2 separate regions of the Homo sapiens genome follow, and region 2 is linked to region 1. The links come from fine-mapping of genetic effects on gene expression. Tissue or cell type: whole blood. Region 1 holds a variant in brackets; the other region holds the start of a gene. All regions are shown on one strand. Distances are between the middles of the regions.

The links. PIP is the estimated chance that this variant, and not a neighbour inherited with it, causes the effect.
Region 2: GSAP starts here. The variant in region 1 is fine-mapped to the expression of GSAP in whole blood (TOPMed, PIP above 0.99).

What each region holds. Positions count from the first base shown.
Region 1 is chr7:77,363,703-77,368,856 of GRCh38, reverse strand. All of the region lies in intron 12 of GSAP (gamma-secretase activating protein), which reads left to right. Among named protein-coding and RNA genes, the nearest start is that of GSAP, 50 kb to the left of the region's middle. The variant C/T (reference allele first, on the strand shown) is at 2,708.
Region 2 is chr7:77,414,246-77,419,399 of GRCh38, reverse strand. GSAP (gamma-secretase activating protein) reads left to right here and starts at 3,051. Exons shown (of 31, transcript NM_017439.4): 1 at 3,051-3,187. The coding sequence starts at 3,079. LOC101927243 (a long non-coding RNA gene) reads right to left here and starts at 4,202. Exons shown (of 5, transcript NR_110073.1): 1 at 4,052-4,202. RefSeq lists silencers at 2,756-3,105, 3,326-3,535, 3,596-3,885.

The DNA of each region.
Region 1 (5,154 bases):
AGCTAACCTTTATAGCCAGATATAACTTCTTTGCAACTAACAATCTAACAATAATAATCTCTTTATACACAGTATCTTATTTAATTATCTCACAAGAACCCTATGAAATAAGTTCTATATTTTCTTTATTTACAGATGAGGAAACTGAGGCTTAGATAATTTAATTAACTTGCCTGAGGCAATAGACTTAGTAAGCCAAAAGCAGGACTCACATCCAAATCTGCTGATTTCAAAAGTGGTTCTCAATCTGGGTTCACGTTAGAATCATTTAGTGAGCTTTAAAAAATACAAATGCCTGAGTCTCACCCCCCAGAGATTCTGACTTAATTCTTCTGATGTGGAACCTGGGCATCTGTGATCCCAAGTAAGTTTAATGTGCTGTCAGGGTTAAGAACCAGTGCTCTAGAGCTGTGTTGTCCAGTATGGTAGCCAATAGCCACATGTGGCTATTTGAATTTACATTAATTAAAATGAAAGAAAAAAATCCAGGGCTGATTAGAAGCAGCTAATGTGAGCCACTCTCACAGGGAAGCGTAAGTGCCACTCTCACAGGGAAGGGGCGAGTAAATGCAGCGCCTTCAACTGAATCATCCAGATGTTCACATTGGGACTAATCCAGGAAACAACTTAACCCATGGAGAATGGCAAAAAGCAAGGCAGGATGACAGCCCACCTAGGAGTGACACAGAGCCAGGGGAACTTCCACCACCCAGGGAAGTGGTGAGTAAATGTACAACTCCAGGAACCCATGCTAGACTAAGAAGACGAGAGAAGATCCAAATAAACACAATTAGAAATGACAAATGGGATGTTACCACTGACCTCACAGAAATAAAAATAATCATCAGAAACTACTGAGAACACCTCTAAGTACACAAACTAGAAAACCTAGAAGAGACAGATAAATTCCTGGACACAAACAGCCTCCCAAGGCTGAACCAGGAAGAAATTGATTCCCTGAACAGACCAATAATAAGCTCCCAAATTGAATCAGTAATATATAACCTACCAACCGAAAAAAGCTCAGGATCTGATGGATTCACAACTGAATTCTACCAGACGTACAAAGAAAAGCTGGTACCATTCCTACTGAAACCCTTTCAAAAAATTGAGGAGGATGGACTCTTCCCCAGTTCATTCTATGAGGCCAGCATCATCCTGATACTGAAAACCTGTCAGAGACATAAGAACAAAAGAAAACTTCAGGCCAATATCCTTGATGAACGCTGATGCAAAAATCATCAAAATACATGGAAACCAAATCCAATAACATGTCAAAAAGCTAATCTACCACAGTCAAGTAGGTTTCATCCCTGGGAGGCAAGGTTGGCTCAACATATGCAATTCAATAAATGTGATTCATCACATAAACAGAATTAAAGACAAAAACCACATTTATCTCAATAGATGCAGAAAAGGCTTTCGATAAAACTCAATACCCCTTCATGTTAAAAACTCTGAATAAACTAGGTATTGAAGGAAAACCTCAAAATAATAGCCATCTATGACAAACCCATAGCCAACATCATACTGAATGGGCAAAAGCTGGTAGCATTTCCCTTGAAAACTGGCACAGGACAAGGATGTCCTCTCTCACCACTCCTATCCAACATGGTATTGGAAGTCATAGCTAGAGCAATCAGGCAAGAGAGCATCCCAAATAGGAAGAGAGGAAGTCAGGCTATCCCTGTTTGCATACGGCATGATTCTGTAGAAAACCCCATAGTCTCAGCCCAAAAGCTCCTTCAACTGATAAACAACTTCAGCAAACTTTCAGGATACAAAATCAATGTACAGAAATCTCTAGCATTTCTTTACACCAACAAGAGCAAAGTCAAGAGCCAAATCAGAAAGGCAATCCCATTCACAATTGCCACAGAAAGAATAAAATACCTAGGAATACAGCTAACCAGGGAGGGGAAGTTAAAGATGTCTACAATGAGAATTACAAAACACTGCTCAAAGAAATCAGAAGTTACAAAGAAATGGAAAAACATGCTCATGGATAGGAAGAATCAATATCATTAAAATGACCATACTGCCCAAAGCAGTGTACAGATTCAATGCTATTCCTATCAAACTATCAATATTCTTCACAGAACTAGAAAAAACTGTCTTAAAATTCATATGGAACCAAAAAAGCCTGAGTAGCCAAGGTACACCTAAGCAAAAAGAACAAAGCTGGAGATATCATGTTACCCAACTTCAAACTATACTACAGGGCTACAGTAACCAAAACAGTATGGTACTGTTACCAAAACAGGCACATAGACCAATAGAATGGAATAGCGAACCCAGAAATAAGGCTGCACACCTATGACTACCTGATCTTCAGCAAAGCTGACAAAAGCAATGGGGAAAAGACTCCCTACTCAATAAATGGTGTTGGGATAACTGGCTAGCCATATATAGAAATTGAAACTGGAACCCTTCCTTACAACATAGACAAAAATCAACTCAAGATGCATTAAAGACTTAAATGTAAAACCCAAAATTTATAAAAATTCTGAAAGAAAACGTAGGCAATACCATCCTAGTCATAGGAATGGGCAAATATTTCATAACAAAGACATCAAAAGTAATCACAAAAGAAGCAAAAATTGACAAATGGGATCGAATTAAACTTAAGAGCTTCTGCACAGCAAAAGAAACTAACAGAGTAAACCAAACGACCTACAGAATTGGGAGAAAATATTTGCAAACTATG[C/T]ATCTGACAAAGGCCTAGTATCCAGCATCTACAAGGTACTTAAATTTATAAGACAAAAACAACTCCATTAAAAAGTGGGCAAAGGACATGAACAGATACTTTACAAAAGAAGACATGTGGCCAGCAAGCATGTGAAAAACTCAGTATCACTGAGGATTAGAGAAATGCAGATAGAGGTTACAATGAGATACCATCTCATACCAGTCAGAATGGCTATTATTAAAAGTAAAAAAAAAAAAAAAAAAAAAAAACCCACAGTTGCTGGCAAGGTTGCAGAGAAAAGGGAAGACTTATACACTGTTGATGAGAGTGTAAGTTAGTTCTACCATTGTGGAAAGCAGTATGGTGATTACTCAAAGGCTAACAGCAGAACTACTATTGGACCCAGCAATCTGATTACTGGGTATATACTTAGAGGAATAAAAATCATTCTACCATAAAGATATACGTATGCAAATGTCAATTGCAGCGTGATTCATGTTAGCAAAGACATGGAATCAACCTAAATGCCCATCAGTGACAGATTGGATAAAGAAAATGTGGTACATACATACCGTGGAATACTGTGCAGCTATAAAAAAGAATGAGATCATGTCTTTTGTGGGAACATGGATGGAGATAGAGGCTATTATCCTTAGCAAACTAACGCAGGAACAGTAAAACGAAATACCTAGTGTTCTCACTTACAGGTAGGAGCTAAATGATGAGAACTCCTGAACACAAGGGAACAACAGACACTGGGGTCTTCTTGAGAGTGGAGGGTGGGAGGAGGGAGCGGAGCAGAAAAAGTAACTATTGAGTACCAGGCTTAATAGCTGGGTGATGAAATTATCTGTAAAAATAAACCCCTGTGATATGAGTTTACCTATATAACAAACCTTCACATGTACCCCTGAACTGAAAATAGAAGTTAAAAAAAATTCCTGTAGTCCCAGCTCTTTGGGAGGCCAAAGTAGGAAGATCACATGAGCCCAGGGAGTTCAAGACCACCCTGGGTAACATAGACTCCATCTCTTAAAAAAAATAAAATAATTAGCCAGGCACACATGTAGTCCTAGCTATTTGGAAGGCTGAAGTGGGAGGATTGTTTGAGCCTGGGAGGTTAAGGCTACAGTGAGCCATGTTTGCACCACTGCACTCCAGCCTGGGCAACAGAGTGAGACTTTGTCTCAGATAAATAGTGCTTCAGTCATATTATCCACATTTTGAGTGTTCAGTGACTACATGTGGCTAGTTGCCACCATATTGGACTATACAGGTATATAACATTTCCATTGTCAAAGACAGTTCTGTTGGATAGCTTCACAGAGCCTGTGTACATACCATTTCAACTTGCTGTGTCTTTTTTTCCCTTTGGGATTGGGTGGGGCAACTAAGCATGACCTAACAATTTGGAAATATTTGCTTATAAGTTCTGGATATGGTTCTTAGAATATGTAATTAGGTACATTTATTCTACATCTCATTTTATTTTATTATTACACTTTAAGTTTTAGGGTACATGTGCACAATGTGCAGGTTAGTTACATGTGTATAAATGTGCCATGCTGGTGTGCTGCACCCATTAACTTGTCATTTAGCATTAGGTATATCTCCTAATGCTATCCCTCCCCCCTCCCCCCACCCCACTACAGTCCCCAGAGTGTGATGTTCCCCTTCCTGTGTCCATGTGTTCTCATTGTTCAGTTTCCACCTATGAGTGAGAATATGCGGTGTTTGGTTTTTTGTTCTTGTGATAGTTTACTGAGAATGTACATCTTACTTTTTTTCAAAATGAGAAAAACTTTCATTCTCTAAAGGATGGAGTGCAGATAGTTTGCTAGAATGGAGGTTATGATCTATGTTGCCATCATGTTCATTTCCCAGGATAGAATCCTAAAAGAATTACTGGGTGAACAGGTATGAATATATTTAACCCTCTGTGAAAGAATTTTTCTGAGATATTGTGTTAGTTGACTCATTCACTACTATTTGAGAATTGTGTAAGAAGCACATGCTCCCTTGACAGTATTTCATTATCATTTAAAAAACTACTTCTAAAGGAAAATTATGGTACCTTGTTTTAATTTTTATTTATTACTAGAGAATCTAAAGTCTTTTTTTTAAGCAATTTCATGTTCCTTGTGATTATAGTATATAAAAGAATGGATAAACAAGTAGTTTTTTGCTGATAATGTTTACTGTATGAAAGCAGTCCAAGTGGTATATGAGACTTTTGTAACTCTTATAATTATTATTTTGTTTATACTTTAGTGATAGATTACTTTTATTCTCAGTGAGTCATGAGTCAGCTGTAATTGTAAAGAAAAGTTGTTATTGTGTGCTCAGTAACCGTAACAGTCATTTTACATCTAATAGAATTGTTACCATGTTATCTGATGAAGTTATTCTTTTTTGCTATTTTGTGTTTAAGATAATTGCAATAAAATGTACTGCTGACAATACTT
Region 2 (5,154 bases), 51 kb before region 1:
AGATTCTGATTCTCTGCATTGCTTCACCTCTTTTCTTGCCTTGTGCTTGCATCTCTACTATAGTGTAAGCACCTTTATCTCCTCCCTTTAGCTGATTCTCTGTGGCTTGCTACTAAAACTTGTGACTCATGGCGTGGTTCAAACTTCTGGAATCAATATTTACCTCCATTTTAGATTTCTCCTCACATACCGACCTTTAGCTCTGGTATATCTTCAAAGCTAGCCATTTCATGCATTTCCTCACCTGGCCCTCTCTATGGTGGACAGTAAGGCAGCAATACAGAGGTGGAAAGCTCCTCACATTAAGTAGCAGAATGTTGCTATTCAAAATGTCATCTGTGGACCAGCAGCTTTGGCATGACCTGGAAACTCGTTAAAATGTAGACTCTTCAGCACCACCTCACCCTGCTGAATCAGAATCTACCTTTTATCAAGATCCTTAGGTGATTTGAATGCTCATTAAAGTTTGAAAATCCCTGATTTAAGATGCTTTTGGCACAAGTAACAGAAAACCCAACTCAAACTGGCTTGCATGATACGTAGAATGACTTTCAGGTGATCTAATCCAGAGGCCCTTAGGTTTTCAGGGCTTTGCAACAAACTCTTTTTGCTTATCTGAGCTGTTTCCTGTAAGCCTACTCCCTCAACATAACTTCATTTTATGTTAACAATACAAAATATAGAATGTGTTCTAATAAGTGTTCAAACACAAACCTATTATTATAGTGCTCTTTGGCCTGTGCCCTAAATTTTGAAATGATCACTCCTTAAAATTGAAACCCTTGGTTGCAAGTAAAATAAAAGTCTGACTGAATATCATTTAAACAATAGGAAATTCAACATCTCTAATATCAGAAAGGGCAGAGGATGGCTCCAAAAATAATTTACCAAGGTTTCTCTTCTCTGCAGTTCTCTGGACTCTCCTGACTCCAATGACTCCATTTTCAGTGTGCTAGATGGCTGAAATTCCAGCAATCATATCTAGATCCCGAAATAGTTAAAGACTGAAAGGGACCATCTTTTCCCATGTCTCTTGTTTTAAGAATAGAGAAATCTGTCATAGCAGAGGTTTCCTTACAACTCAGTGGCCGGAATCGGGTATCATACTCTGACAGAGATCTCTAATTGCTTCTGAATATCTACTTTCCCCACCTTCTTCAGTAATACCGTCCTGATTTTTATCTGGGCACAGCAATGGCCAGGTATATTTCCTTGCCTCCCTTGAAAGCTACATTTGGCCATGTGACTAAATTCTGGTGAGTGAAACATACGTAGAAATGTTGTGTAGAACTTCCGGGAAGTATCCTTAAAAGAGAGGTAGCATCCTCTTTTTATTCCTCTTCTTCCATTCTGATTTCTGGAATGCAGACGTGAAGGCTGAAGCTTCTGCAGCCCTCTTTGATCATGAGGACAAGGGTACACTCAGGATCAGGTGGAGCAAAGAACTGGAAGGAGCCTGGGTCCCTGATAAATTCAGGAACCTGCCCTAAGAGCTTTATTCTGCCTACGTCCAGCTAGGTGACAGAATAAAACTTGTGTGTTTAATTTACTGTTAATCTGAGTTCTTATTAACTTCTGGAGAATCTAATCCTAACTGATACACATGCCTTCATATAGCACCCTCATGATTTTGGCCACATCTTTCTATCATTATCTTATTGTTTCTCACCTTCTTTACATTGGCTTTTTCACTTAATTTGAAGAGAATTTTTTATATCATCACTGCTTGACTATAAAATCAGTCCTGCCTGGCAAAAATAGAAGTTAACTGCAAAAATAAAAACAATGGAAATGTACTGACTTTAAAAAATTGGCCAACAGTGTTTCTGTATGACAAAGGCAACAAGCTTATTTGATATGAAATAGTTGCATTAGCTCCTTGGGGGCTCCAGTGGCCTTCCTTTTATTCACTGATAATATTAGCAGCTTCATTAGGCATTTATCTTAAATTTGCATGCACTTCCCGGGTGGGAGGACTTTCCTCTGTATATGGTGGTGAGTAATGGAGTTCTACCTGAAATCATCCATTACCTCAGTTGGAGAAACATGTCTCTAGGAGGGAAAAAAATTCAAGACTTTCTTTTACATTTGGTTGGAGTAGTTTTCAAACTTAGTAAGCCTAAGAATCACCCGAGGCTCTGGGTAAAATGCACGTTTCTGGTCTTGTCCAGGTGTAGAGATCAGGAGTCTGCATTGTAAAATAGTGCCCCAGATGACGTCAATACAAGTAGTTTTCAGACCTTAATTTCGGAAGCATGTGAAAAAGCATTCTTTATTACTGTATTCACTCATTCTTCAGTAATTGTCGAGCACCTTCCAGAGTGCTCTGTTAGACCCTGGTGGGAGGCAGAGGGTTTGCGTGGAGACTTAAGATTCAGTTTTCATGTCTCAAGGCATCAAATGAGATGTACTAGAGTTAAAAGGCAAAAAGGACGCTGTTTGTATCAAGCGCATTAACCCCTTTTAGCGTTTCTCTTACAATGGGATCACCTTCGTCATACGCTCCCAGTTGCTACTCATTACCTTAATAACACTAATAAAGCACCACCACCTCGAAGCTGGGGCGAATAGGCCCAAGAGACGGCCTACTTCTGTGGTGACCCTGAACTGCTCCAGAGGACCCAGCTCTCTCAAGCCAAGTGGTTTCCACACTTTGCTGCACAGTGGAGGCACTTGTAGAATAAAGAAAATAGGCCGACCCTCCAGGTTTGGAAGCCACTGGGCTAGCGGCCTCGCCAAGGCCCTGAAGCGCCCACGTCTTTGCGCCCTCTATCCTCAGCCCCGAAGGTGCGCGCGGAGGCCTCCCGCCCCGGCGGGCCTGGTCCTGGCGCCTGGTCCACCCCGCCCCACCGCTACCCGCCGTGCCCGGCTCCGGCTCCGGCTCAGGTGCGGGCCGCCGGCCGGGAGGAGCTGGTGCCGGAGCTTCTCAGGCCAGGGCGCTGCAGAACCGAAAGCAGCAGGGGGCGGGGGAGAGGAAAGAGGGGGCGGGAGCGGGGACGCGAGGGCGAGGCGGCCACGCGGGGCCGGGAATGCCCGCGGTGCGGGGCCCCAGAGCCGCCCGGTGGTCGTGTCCGGGCGATGGCTCTTCGCCTGGTCGCCGACTTCGACCTCGGGAAGGACGTGCTCCCGTGGTTGCGGGCGCAGCGGGCAGTGTCGGAGGCCAGCGGGGCCGGAAGCGGCGGCGCAGGTGCGGGAGGCGCGCTGCGGAGAGGGGTGGGGGCGGGGAGTGGGAGTCCCTCATACCCCCCGGACTCCGACCCGGTGGGGAGCAACCCGGGGCGTCGCCGCCCTGAGAAGGCTGGTGCGAGGGCGTCGCTCCCCTCCTCAGAGGGCTGTTTTGGCTTTGCCACCCACACCCAGCCACGGCGGAAGGTCTGGGGGCAGAGCCCGGGCCAGGTCGCCGTGGGGCCTGAGGCGCCTGGCTCGCTGCCGGCCCGCGGAAATTCGCCCTTGGCAGAGGGGCCGGGCCGCTGGCGGTTCCCTCAGCATCACCTCACGGCGAGGGCAGAGGGTCGTGCTCAGCTCAGCGGCCGCATCCCACCTCCCGGGGGGTTCATCGGCAGCGCAGGGGCTTTGCCAAGACAGGAGTGCTCCTGGAAGCTTCACGTTTTGAGAAAGAATCCGTGACCACCAAGCAAACCACCCTATACCTAACGGTGGAACAGTTTGTCCCCACATTTGCGAGACGTGTTTATGTGTCTGTTGAACCGTGTCCGTGGCTCAGGGGACATGGGCCTCGGCGGTGAGGCGCAAGAGGGCAGGGGCCGCCTCCAGGCTGCGCGCGGCGGGGCGAGAGCCCCCAGCCGCCCCCGAGCTCCGCACCTGTGCAGGCTGGGGCTGCGCGCGAGATGCTCGGCTCCCGGCCCTGCCACTCCGGGCTTTTTGATGATTTGGTAAGGGAGTGAAAGTGACTTTTGAGCCTTCCCAGCACTGATCTGTTTTAAAGAAGGGGAACTTTGTGATTTCTTACAAAGTTTTAAAAGTCTTCTATAAATATTGGAGCTTCAGAGCTTAAATGCAGCTTCAAAGCAATGATGCCTGTAGGTCTCACCTTGTGTGTAGGGCGCTGTCCACTTCAGTGAATTTGGAAGTGGGTATTAAATGACCCACATCTACAACTCCTTTCCCTTAAACGCTGGTGAAAGTTTTCTTGATGTGAGTTATATATCAAGTTGCTATCTTGTATCTTCACACTCTCCTATGACTATAGCGAAATTATTTGTAGGTTTCCTTGGCTTGGAATATTATTAGCTCCAAATAAGGAGTTATATGTTTGTGTAGCGTATGCATTGAGTTTGCATTAGTGTCATGCTTAGTAAGGCTTTACTTTTTTTCGAGGTGGAGAGGGTGGTCAAGGAAGAATTTTATACAAAAATTAGCTGGGCGTGGTGACACGCTCCTGTAATCCCAGCTACTCGGGAGGCTGAGGCAGGAGAATCGCTTGAACCTGGGAGGCAGAGGTTGCAGTGAGCCGAGATCTCGCCACTGCACTCCAGCCTGGGCAACAGAGTAAGTCTCCGTCTCAAAAAAAAAAAAAAAAAAAAAAAAAAAAAAAGTCGCCCACATGTCTGAAAAGTTTTTGAAGGCTTAACTTTTTGAAATACAACAGGCAGCTCTGTCTTCTACTACCAAGTACTCCTTTTTCTGGACTCCCACTTTATTTTGCTAAATGGCAGGTGTCTGCAAATGAGAAGTTAGATGAGTGTGAAATGCCACAGTCTTATGTTTCCGTAATGTGTGTCGTGCTTGAAAAGCTGTGTGTGACCCACTGGGACCTGGCTTCCTTGTATCTTTCGCTCATCTCTGAAGAAATATAAACTTGTGTATTGACCTTCCACTAAACAACAGATAGCTCTAGGTCCTCAGAAGGTACTTTCTGGAAATACTAGCTTTTCTGATACTGGTAGTATTTTGCTCTTTCAGAGCAAATATCTTGGTAAGATATTAGCCCTGTTATACTAAGAGAATTATCACCTCTGATAATCACCAGTGGGTGGTAGCTCAAAAATACCCCCACACAAATTAATTCCTGTTCTGTAATTTATAGCAGTGGCAGGGAAATCTGGGATTCTGTCTCATTTCTAGCACAGCAGTTACAACACACATTTGTGGAAATCATTATCCTTTCAAAGTTCTGGCTTTTCAAATGTAAAT